3 linked regions of the Homo sapiens genome follow. The protein of the gene in region 3 binds, or shares a complex with, the protein of the main gene of each other region. Each region holds a gene or a part of one and is shown on either strand. Other genes may lie near its edges.

Region 1 (3,751 bases), on a different chromosome or scaffold from region 3:
GTTTTTGTGATGCCACAAAATGTATTACAGAAACAAAGTACTCTGTCGACTCAGGAGGCAGGAAATGAAAGGACACTTACTGTGAGAACACACAGATGATGTCCCCTTCAGTCAGTTCATAAGGAAGCCCTCCTAGAAGAGAAAACCACATTTCAGTTCCACCAACATTTACCAAGTGTTTACTACATACCACGCACTAGGCCAGGCACTAGGGGTGGAAACAGTAAGCAACAGGCCCTGCCCTTAAAGAAATCAAGTCTGGGCTGGGCACCGTGGCTCACGCCTGTAATCCCAACACTTTGGGAGGCTGAGGAGGGTGGATCACCTGAGGTCAGGTGTTCGAGACCAGCCTGTCCAACATGGCGAAACCCCGGCTCTACTAAAAATACAAAAAAAAATCAGCCAGGTGAGGTGGCGGGCACCTGTAATCCCAGCTACTCAGGAGGCTGAAGCAGGAGACTCGCTTGAACCCAGGAGGCAGAGGTTGTAGTGCGCCGAGATCGTGCCATTGCACTCCAGCCTGGGCGACAAGAGTGAAACTCCAGCTCAAAAAAAAGAAAGAAAGAAAGAAATTAAGTCTGACTCAATGACAGAAGTACATGTAAGGTGCCAGTAGTACAGAAAAAGGAGTAATTAATTTTGAGTGGAAGTCGGGGTCACCACTAACGAAACTAATCTGATCACTCAGTCCTCCTGCCACCCAAAATCCTATGGACAAAGCAGATAGTTTCCATCACAAACCTCTGCTTCCACAAACATGTTGAATTCATCTGCTCATTACCCACAAATTTACAGCTATGATACAAAATCAGTCTACATATGTCATGATTAACCCCACCTACACATAGACAAAGGTTATAAAGACACTGTTAAGCATTTCCTAGGGAATAATTTCCCCTCCAAATATTTATTTCCTCATTTGTAAGATGGGGATATTAGCACGTAACTCGCAAGATTATTATAAGAGTTAAATAAAACGATGTATATAAAGTGCTTAGCACAATGTTTGGTACAATAACCTCTTTGAAGCATCAAACTTGTACAATTACTGATTGTGATATAAAGTGAATACAGTAATGGTAACGTGGCCATGGACTAGAAAGCAGGAGCTAGAGGAGCAAAGTGAATTCTGGAAGGGAAGGGGAATGGGGGAGGGTGGTGGTAGCAATATGGAGCTGTGGCTAAGACCAAGAGTTCTAGAATGCTATAGTTCTGCCTGTTGCGCTTACTAGCTATGTGACCTTAAGGAAGTCCCTTAACTTCTCTGCACCCCAATTTCCTCAGCAGTATAATGGGTCAGAGGGTGAGAGAGAAATAACAACAGTCCCTGAACCTTAGCACAGCAAATGGCAAACAGTAACTCTCATGAGCACTGATTTGGCAGGGAAGGAAAACTAAAAATGGGGCAGAAAAGAGATGTAACACGGATTCCCGGGCAGACAGCAGATGGATATGAAGGTGGGCGATGAATGTAAGCAGGAGTGAAGGGTGAAAATGCCGAAATAGTCGGAAACCGAGCAGGAGAATCTGGAGAGCACTGAGGAAGAAAGATGTGGACCTCACCCAGGAAGATCCAGGCGCTGTCCTTGTACTCGGAGTGCCAGGACACCTTATCGGCCACCCCAAGCTGGACCTCTCGTTCATTCAGCTCGTTGATCAGCTTCACCTTAGTTAAAGGGCTTCACGGTGGCGGGGGGGGTGGGGAGGGTAGGCAGAAAAGCAGACAAGTAAGTGCGAACCGGCCGGAGCTGAGGAAGAGCAAAACTAGGGGACGAGCTGTTCCAGTCCCCGCGCCGCTCCCGCCCCTCGGCCCCGCAGACGCTCTACCACACCAGTCCCGGTGGACCACCCCCAGTGGCCCGCTGCTCCTTCCTCAAAAGGAAGCTGACGCCTTACTTCATCTCCTCGGGTTCGCGCTCAGCACTCAGGAATCAGCGCCCGGGAAAGGCAGCGCAGCGCATGCGCGGCCCCGGCGCCAGTGGCCAGTCGATTCGGTGACCTCGCGCCGGAAGAGCCGGGGCGTACCGGGGCGTGGCGCCTGCGCACTAGCAGCCTTCCGCGCTGCGTGCGGTTACCTCTTGGAGAGGTGGTTTTTCTCTAGTTTTTCGCTTTTTCTTCTCTGTGAAATGGGGTAAAGGCACAAGCCTGGGCTGTTGCAGGACCCCCACCTCTTGAACGATATCTGAAACTGGTTAGATTAGCTATAAATATTTGCTGAGTGAACGGAACAAGCAGCCTGATGTGGCGACTTTAGTCTCAGCCCTCGCTCCCAGTCCAGAGTCCCACTTGGACCTTCGCTCCTAGTCAGTTGCTAAAGCACAGACCCATCAAAGCATCCCTGTCATGGCAGAAAAGTGAAGAAGATAGGTGAAAAGGTAAATCTTCTGTTGTCCTTATCCCAATACATAGGCAACAGACCAGTGTGCTTCTATAGGCTGAATCGAATACCTACACATTTGCATGAGAACTGCTGCACTTACTCTTTTCCATAGGCTCTCTCCTAGTTGAGCAGGAGGCAGAAATTAATATTGTTAAATTAATAGCTAACAATTGAGCAGATGATGTACTATACGATGCTAGAGTATGTACTAAGCAATTTACATGTATTGTCTCTCCACCCTCACAACAACCCAATAAAGCAGAGAAAATTACAATCCCTAGCCGGGCACAGCAGCTCAGCCTGTAATCCCAGCACTTTGGGAAGCTGAGGTAGGAGGATTGCTTGAGCTCAGGAGTTCGAGACCATCCTGGGCAACATAGCAAGACCCTGTCTCTAAAATAAAGGGAAAAAAAGGGGGGCCAAGTGTGGTGGCTCATGCCTGTCATCCCAACACTTTGGGAGGCTAAGACGGGTGGATCACCTGAAGTCGGGAGTTCAAGACCAGCCTGGCCAAGATGGTGAAACTCTGTCTCTACTAAAAATACAAAAATTAGCCAGGCATGGTGTCACACGCCTGTAATCTCAGCTACTCAGGGGGCTGAGGCAGGAGAATCACTTGAACCTGGGAGGCAGAGATTGCAGTGAGCTGAGATCGCACCACTGCACTCTAGCCTGGGCAGCAGAGTGAGACTCCTTTTTATTTAAAAAAAAAAAGAAAGAAAAGAAAAAAAATTTCCACCCTCATTTTGTAGAGGAAGAAATGAGGCTCAAAGGAATAAATTAACTTGAAAGGTACTCTACCTGCACCCGTCAGGTCAGGTTGATTTAATCAGTCCTTACTGAACATCTAGATTTGTCCTGTACAGCTAAGGTCTGTAGACAGGAGTATCAGGGTGGGTCCTCTGCCTTCAAGGAGCTAATATTATAATTAAGGGGACAAGATATATTTGCTTGATAGATTTCAACCAGAAATATCTAGAAACCAGTGGAAGAGATTATTAATGTATAATATGTGATTTAACCCATATTGACAGTTTGAATCCATTTTGCATGTGTCCACATCAATACCTGCTCTTGGACTATGATGTTCTAAAAGTGAAAGTCCAGAGCTGTGCGGCCTAACTCAGAGCACCAGATATTAGGTCCTTCATAAAAGCATTTTGATGATGATAACAACTGTACCCTCAAGTGGCCCACCATGTAACCAATGTCCTGCCAAGAAGGAGAACAGAGGCTGCCCACCAATGACAGTTCCTCCTCATTCATTCTGTGTCTGTTCCCCCCTCCCCATTCCAACCCAGCTATTCATTAACTTTGTAAAATTATCTTGGCAATGAAAGCTAAACAGTGACAGATTGCACATGGGGTTTA
Region 2 (3,751 bases), on a different chromosome or scaffold from region 3:
AATTTTCTACTCCAAACAGAGCAAAAAAGTGTGAGCCACTTTATGGCTTATGCAACTTGACCTGACTTTGCCTATGCCTTCAATCTCCCCTTACAACTCTCACTCTCTCACTCATTATGCTTCAGTCACACTAGCTCATCTTCTGTTTCTTGAACATAACATACTTTTCCCCAATTCTAGGCCTTTACAGAGTTCTGTTTATCATTCTTCAAGTAAGCTCTCAATCTGTGTGTCTCAGATCAAAGGTCCTCCATTATCGAGGCTTCTTCTGATTGCCTTAGTAGTAACCCCTCCCCACCCAATCATTTGCTCCATAGCACTGTTTACTGTGATCAAGACTGTTCACAGCATGAAATTATCTACTTTACATGGTTATTATCTGTCTCCCGTATTAAAACAATAAAAACGGGGAGGGCACGGTGGCTCACGCCTGTAATCCCAGCACTTTGGGAGGCCGAGGTGGGTGGATCACCTGAGGTCAGGATTTCAAGACCAGCCTGACCAACATGGTGAAACCCCGTCTCTCCCAAAAACAGAAAAATTAACCAGGCATGGTGGTGGGTGCCTGTAATCTCAGCTACATGAGACGCTGAGGCAGGAGAATCGCTTGAACCCAGGAGACGGAGGTGACAGTGAGCCGAGATCATGCCATTGCACTCCAGCCTGAGCAACAAGAGTGAAACTGTCTCCAAAAAAAAAAAAAAAAAAAAAAGTGTCTCCTGTGCTTTATAATAATGACTGGAGATATTTGATCAATATTTTTTGTACAAATGAATAAATAAATGAATTTTAGAGATATTCTGTTACATGCTAAAGGTGTTTATAGGCCATGAACAGTGACTCACGCCTGTAATCACAGCATTTTGGAAGGCCAAGGTTGGAGGATAGCTTGAGCCCAGGAATTCGAGACCAGCCAGGGCAACATGGCAAGACCTATCTCTATTTTAAAGAATGGATGGATGAATGAATAAATAAATAAGTTTATATTTTAGGCCGTACAGAACTTTCTATAAGCTACTGATTTCCCAGAAAAAACTATCTCATGGCTATACACTAAAATCTCCAGCTTGTTTTTCTCAGGAGTGAGAAGAGGGATCAGGTAAGAAAGCCTAAGATGATTTAGCACAAAACACGTACTACTGATATGTGAGTTATTAGTGTCACCATACTCTAAGAGTGTTGATTTTGGAAGGGACCATAAAGCTCACTCTACTGAAAAGAGTGAGGTTCAGTACATTAAGATCATACAGCTACTATCTGACCTCAAAAGTCTTATTTCCTCTCAGCATGGAAAAACCTATACAACCCTAAGCTGAAAATTATATAACAACACAAGAAAAAAATACCAATTCTATGAAGAGTTAATCATGAGGAGTTTATCACTTCTCCATAGCAACGGTTATAAGGAAAGGATTCTAAGTAAATGGCTCCCTGGTAGTCATGTATGTTCAACATAAAGTGTCAATACTAATTTAGCATACAAGAGTCATTTGCTGCTCCTTATTTGGGCATTCCAAAGTTAATAACCCTTCAAATGAGCATCAATAAGATTCTAGTATCTCACAAGGCTGAGTGAAGGACATCTGAAGAGCAAGATTCCTCCATAGTAATTAATTATAAAACCCCCCATTTTTTTTTTTTTGAGACGAAGTCTTGCTCTTGTTGCCCAAGCTGGAGTGCAATGGCGTGATCTCAGCTCATAGCAACCTCCGCCTCCCGGGTTAAAACCATTCTCCTGCCTCAGCCTCCCTCCCAAGTTGCTGGGATTACAGGCGCATGACACCACGTCCAGCTAATTTTTGTATTTTTATTAGAGATGGGGTTTCACCATGTTGGCCAGGCTGGTCTCGATCTCCTGACCTCAGGCGATCCACCCGCCTCGGCCTCCCAAAGTGCTGGGATTACAGGCGTGAGCCACAGCACCTGGCCAAAACCCCAAATTTTTATAGTCTGAGAATTAAATGTGCTGAGGAAACTGAGTACCAGGAGGCAAATGGGCTGGGGAGCGTTTTCTGAAAAATACAATATACTCTTGAAAGTATCAGAAGCACAAATAAGCTTTGTCAACAAGATAAAGTAGTAACTCATCTGTGAAACAGATATTTTATTACAGAAAACTGGCAAAGAACTAGACTGACTAAAAGGATAAGCCTGTCAAAACATTCACTATGTGAGGTAGAAAGAAAACGCTAATCTAGCTTAGCTAGTGTGTGAAATCATACAAACAAGATAACATATAATTTATCATGGGGTCAGTTTAAAGTTGTTACGGTTTTTTAGGGGTAATACGTTGAAGGCATTCTTTTGGGTATAGTACGTGTGTAACATTTCGTTTCTTTAAGAGATAGGGTTTCATTATATTGCCCAGGCTAGTCTCAAACTCCTGGCCTCAAATGATCCTCCCACCTCAACCTTCCCAAAGTGCTGGGATTACAGGCATGAGCCAATGCACTTGGCCTGTATGTAGTATTTCTTACATAACTATTTCAGAGGGAAAAATACATACACCAAGCCCTTTATTTCAAGATTTATCACTTGGCTGGGTGTGGTGGCTCATGCCTGTAATCCCAGCACTTTAGGAGGCCGAGGTGGGTGGATCACCTGAGGTTGGGAGTTGGAGACTAGCCTGACCAACACGGAGAAACACTGTCTCTACCAAAAATACAAAATTAGTCAGGCGTGGTGGCACATGCCTGTAATCCCAGCTACTCAGGAGGCTGAGGCAGGAGAATCACTTGAACCCGGGAGGCAGAGGTTGCGGTGAGCTGAGATCGTGCCATTGCACCCCAGCCTGGGCAACAAGAGCAAAACTCCGTTTCAAAAAAAAAAAAAGATTTATCACTTTCATAATTAGGAAAAAAAAAGCATTTGGTTGTATCAAGATTTACACTAAAAAAAACTTTTTCATCCCCAATTTTGTATGACTAATAAGTCGTATACACAGTACTTACTTCACATGTAGAGAATTGCCTTAGACTTGTCCTAGAATATTACGTCTTAGAATCCTCACTGATTCTTCTCACCTCTTATACCTAACACCTAGTATTTTCCATTCTTACTCATTCACTATTAATATTTCAGTGAGAACTCCCTCGTTTCTGAAGAATACCAGACCTCTCGGAAGCAAATCAGAAATCTTAGTCCAAATTCATAAATCCAATAACCTGTTCAGTCTCTGGAATAACAAATTTTTTAAATCCTATTTTATATATTATGCAGTCCATTTCTATTTCTTCTAAAACAGGAAAATCAGTGATTGTCAAACAGGGCATCACTGCCACCTCTAACTCCTCTCTCCCAGTGCCTTTGTAAATGTGTGAGGTGTTTCTAGTTAAGACAATGGGGGTAGGATGGGGACGCTACTGGGATTTATAGGTAGTGCCACTTATGCTAAACATTGTACAATGCTGAAGATGGTCCTAAACAATCAAAGTGCTCCCCCAGTGCCAATGGCACATAATAGTTACTTGATTAATGTTGAATTACTCAATGCATTCCAAACTTCATGCATGAATCTATCCACTTCTAGAAAACAAACAAACAAAAAGATATAAACCTGAGAGTGGTCCCAGTTTGGGGTTTGTTTCTAGTGGCTGCATTACAGACAAAAGCAACGATCTGGCCGGGTGTAGTCGCTCATGCCTGTAATCCCATCACTTTGGGAGGTTGCAGTGAGCCAAGATCGTGCCACTGCATTTCAGCCTGGGTGACAGAGTGAGACTCCATCTCAAAAAAAAAAAAAAAGAAAAAA
Region 3 (3,751 bases):
GCCCAAATAATAACAATGACTGCCATGATGTGAAGTTATTCAAAAAGCCAGGGTCACTTAATGCAATCCCTCTAATCACAACCACCACTTAATAAAACCATTATTATTATTATTCTCATTTTAAAGATAAGGAAACTGCAGCTCAGTGAGATGAAACACCTTGCCCAAGGGTACACAGCCTATAAAGTGGCACAGCTAGGATTCGAACTCTGACCAGTGCTGCTCCAACACTCAAGCTACTTTCATCACATGGCACTGCCTCCAAAGGATCCACACAAGTCAGCGAGGCAGAAAGACGAAGACAATAATAAGGCAAGCACCAAACCAGAAAAGAACTTGGACTAGTTCTTTAGAACAATGTGACTTCACTGGGTATCTCAGTGCCTTAGGGTTACTGTAACAAAGTACCACAAATTGCGTGGCATAAAACAACAGAAACTCTCTCGCAGTTCTGGAAGCTAGCAATCTGAAATCCAGGTGTCTGCAAGGCCATCCTCCCTGGAAAGTCTCTAGCAGAGAATCTTTCCTTGCCTCTCCCAGCTTCTGGTAGCCCCAAGCATACCTTGGCTTTTGGCAACATAAATCCAATCCAATCTCAGCCTTCATCTAGACATGGTCGTTTTTCCTTTGTTGCTGTGTCTGTATCCATACTTCCCTCTTTTTAAAAGGCAAACAGTCATCTTGGATTTGGCACCCACCTTAATCAAGTATGACCTCATCTTAACTGATTACATCTCCAAAGACCCTATTTCTAAATGTCACATTCTGTGGTTCTGGGTGGAAAACGATTTGGTAGGGCCCACTACACTGGGCCACAAAGTTGTCCCATATGAAAATAATACCCACTTCATGGTAGTGTGGTGAGGCTTAAATAAACTTATATATGTTTAAATTTCTTATAATGGTGCCTGGCAAGAAAAGTATAACTATATAAATGTTAGCTTCTCACGTTAGGACTATTACTAAGAGTAACAGGAGGTGATCAAAGGTCTCTGATTCAGAACCAAGTCCTTGGGATCTGGGAATCCCCACAGGCAGGTACCGGGCCCTAAAGATCCAAGCACAGAGGCTTTGAATCCGCTCCATTATTCTCGAGGCACAATATTCATTCTCTATGGGAGAGGACGGAAGTCTACCAAGGCGGGAAAAGAGTAATCAAAGTTACACCCCGGCTTTAACGCACTGACGCTACTGCTCAGAGGCTCGAGATGTAAGCGGGGCGGCAGAGGCAAGGCGGGGGGCCTCAAGCGATGTGAGTGGGGCCCTGAGCATGAGCAGGGGTCGGCGGAGAAGCCGAGAGACCCGCCAAGAGGGAAGGAACTGCCGGGCGGCCGAGGGCGGAGTTGGGAAGGGGTGGCTAGACGTCGCAGGCCCCGCCCCGGCCGGTACCAACTCACCCCTTGCCGCCGGCCCCGCCAGGCTTCGGCCGCTTTTTGCGACGCTTGCGACCGGACTCAGATCCCCGGTCGACGCCGGCATCTGCCCCGGACAAGTAACGCTTCAGATACTCGGCCTTGGAAAGCGGCGGAGCTGCCGCCATGGCAGCGGCGGGGGCAGAGAGACGGGTCGGCGCTGGGGACAAAATGCCTCAACGCGTAACGGACGCCAGCCACCCGACAGGGCGGGGCCACGGCCGGAAGTGGCGGAGAGTGCTAAGAATCGCGCGGCTGGCAGGTGCGGCCACCGGGACGCGCTCGCAGGCTAGCCAGGGACGTGCGCACCTTCGGGGCGCTCCACAGCCCTGGGACGACGCCACCAGGTTTCTTCTCTTCATTCACTCACCCACCCACCCACCCATCCATCCAACCGCAGCAAGCGCTGTTCTATGAGGCCACAACCTGACCCAAAGGACCCCGCCCCCATCGGCCGCCTAAACTCCAGAGCACGAGCAAGAAAGTGGAGGGCCACGGGCTGCAGCGTAGCCGAGTTTGAATACTGGTTCCATAGCTGGCTAGCTGTACGACCTCGGGCAAGTTATCACAAAACAGGGAGAATCCCGGCACCTAACTCGGAACGGTCACAGGCTGAGATGATATTACTGTGTGAAGTGCGCAGAGCGGTGTTGGGCACATGGTCATCGGAACTATGTTCGTTATTTTTATAAGTATCTTTAAGTGGGGGGAATCTGCTCCACTAGGCTTCCAGGTACCTACCGTCCAAGAAAGGAAGCCAGGAAGTGCAAACCAACATAATTACTATGAAAAACGTAGTTTCTAAGACCTGTGTAACTCTTCTAGTGTTCTATTACAAGTAGCCCCCAGTTATCTCTTGAAGGAAACTGTAAAACAATCTTGCCAATGAGAAGGACGGACCTGGATCATTTTTTAGCATAGTAAAAGAGAGAAACCAGAGAGAATGAATTCTAACACTCAAGTTTTGGGGGGAAAGAAAAGACTTTATTCTTTGCAGGGGGTTTAGAGCTTTACCTGAATTATCTCATTTAACCCTCACAATTCTCAAATCGTTTCATTATCATATTTTACAGATAAGAACTGAAGCGTGGCAAGATTAAGGAAGTTGCTCAACTTCACATAGTCAGAACATGACTCTAGGGAGTAGAGGCTAGCGAAGTGGGGTGCAAGAGGTCATCCAAATTTCTTGAAATACCAGATCTTTTTACCTCATCATATATGTTAGATTGTCAGTTTTATCGTTTTCTTCCCAGCTTTATTATTTGACAAAAAATTATATATATTCAAGGTGTACAATGTGATGACTGGATATAATTATACATTGTGTAATGATTACCAAAATCAAATTAAGTAAAACATCCTTCACTAATTTATGTAGTAGTTCGGTGGGGGGGCACTTAAGCAAATTTGTCTTAGCAAACTTCAAGTAAACAATACAGAATTATTAGCTATAGTCAACATGTTGTACATTAGATTCCCAGAACTTGTCTTAAAACTGAAAACTTGTACCATTTGAGAGAGAAGTTTTAGTGTTACTGAAATCACAGACTTCTGACAGAATTTGCAGGATGCTATACACAACTACACAAAAGTGCAAACAATAGTTTCTTGGACCAAGAGTCAAAAAGGTCACTTTTTTAATATATTAGTCAAGCAGACAGGGCTATACTTTATAAATAAATACACATTATCTGGGGATAAGTGTTTAAAAAATTCTTTACTCATATAATACAAAACAGGCTTGGGGATCAGTCTTGAAGCATGAATTTTTACCCAGTGGGCCATGTTGAGGGGGTTGCAGCACAGGCCCAGAAAGGAAAGCAGGCTGGGGCTCTGAGGGCTTGTGAGACGAGGACGCTGGGCTGAGAAGATAGGGCTTCACTAGGCGGAGGGCCCCAGGGTACCCCATACACAAGCCTGCCTTGGCTTCTCGTCCAATTTGGTGCATCTCACACTACACAGCCCTGCCCCACCCTGGTGTCAGCAGGCATTCAGAAAGCCTCACACTTCTGCTCCAGTGAACACTGCCAGGATAGCCCTCTGAACTTCCACCCACCCATCTTCTGCCCATTTGTTTTCTTTGTCTTCAATTCCACTGCTACCCATCCTACCCCAGTCCCTTAGCCTGACAAGGCCCAAGTGTCTCCACCCTGTGCTGCAGGGCAGTTAAGCAGGATCAGATGCCGTGCCAATGGCCTGCTCTGAGCTTTGGCCTCTCTCTGCAGTTGTATCTAATAGAACAAATACAGTAATTGTGGAGCTGAGCTTAAAATATTCAGACCTCAGGTTTCAGAGTCTGACTGGCATGGGTTTGACACCTGCCTCTTAGAAGCTCTACT

The links.
Region 1: BUD13 (region 3) and RBMX2 share a complex: the UniProt entries of both Homo sapiens proteins name them as parts of the activated spliceosome.
Region 2: BUD13 (region 3) and SNW1 share a complex: the UniProt entries of both Homo sapiens proteins name them as parts of the minor spliceosome.

What each region holds. Positions count from the first base shown.
Region 1 is NC_000023.11:130,400,183-130,403,933, reverse strand, and holds the start of RBMX2 (RNA-binding motif protein, X-linked 2), read right to left. Parts: upstream 1,948-3,751; 5' UTR 1,902-1,947; coding exon 1,897-1,901; intron 1,680-1,896; coding exon 1,564-1,679; intron 133-1,563; coding exon 81-132; intron 1-80. UniProt on the Homo sapiens protein: Involved in pre-mRNA splicing as component of the activated spliceosome. As a component of the minor spliceosome, involved in the splicing of U12-type introns in pre-mRNAs.
Region 2 is NC_000014.9:77,740,407-77,744,157, forward strand, and holds part of SNW1 (SNW domain-containing protein 1), read right to left. Parts: intron 1-3,751. UniProt on the Homo sapiens protein: Involved in pre-mRNA splicing as component of the spliceosome. As a component of the minor spliceosome, involved in the splicing of U12-type introns in pre-mRNAs.
Region 3 is NC_000011.10:116,771,425-116,775,175, forward strand, and holds the start of BUD13 (BUD13 homolog), read right to left. Parts: upstream 1,564-3,751; 5' UTR 1,541-1,563; coding exon 1,398-1,540; exon of another isoform or gene 607-1,397; coding exon of another isoform or gene 563-606; intron 1-562. UniProt on the Homo sapiens protein: Involved in pre-mRNA splicing as component of the activated spliceosome. As a component of the minor spliceosome, involved in the splicing of U12-type introns in pre-mRNAs.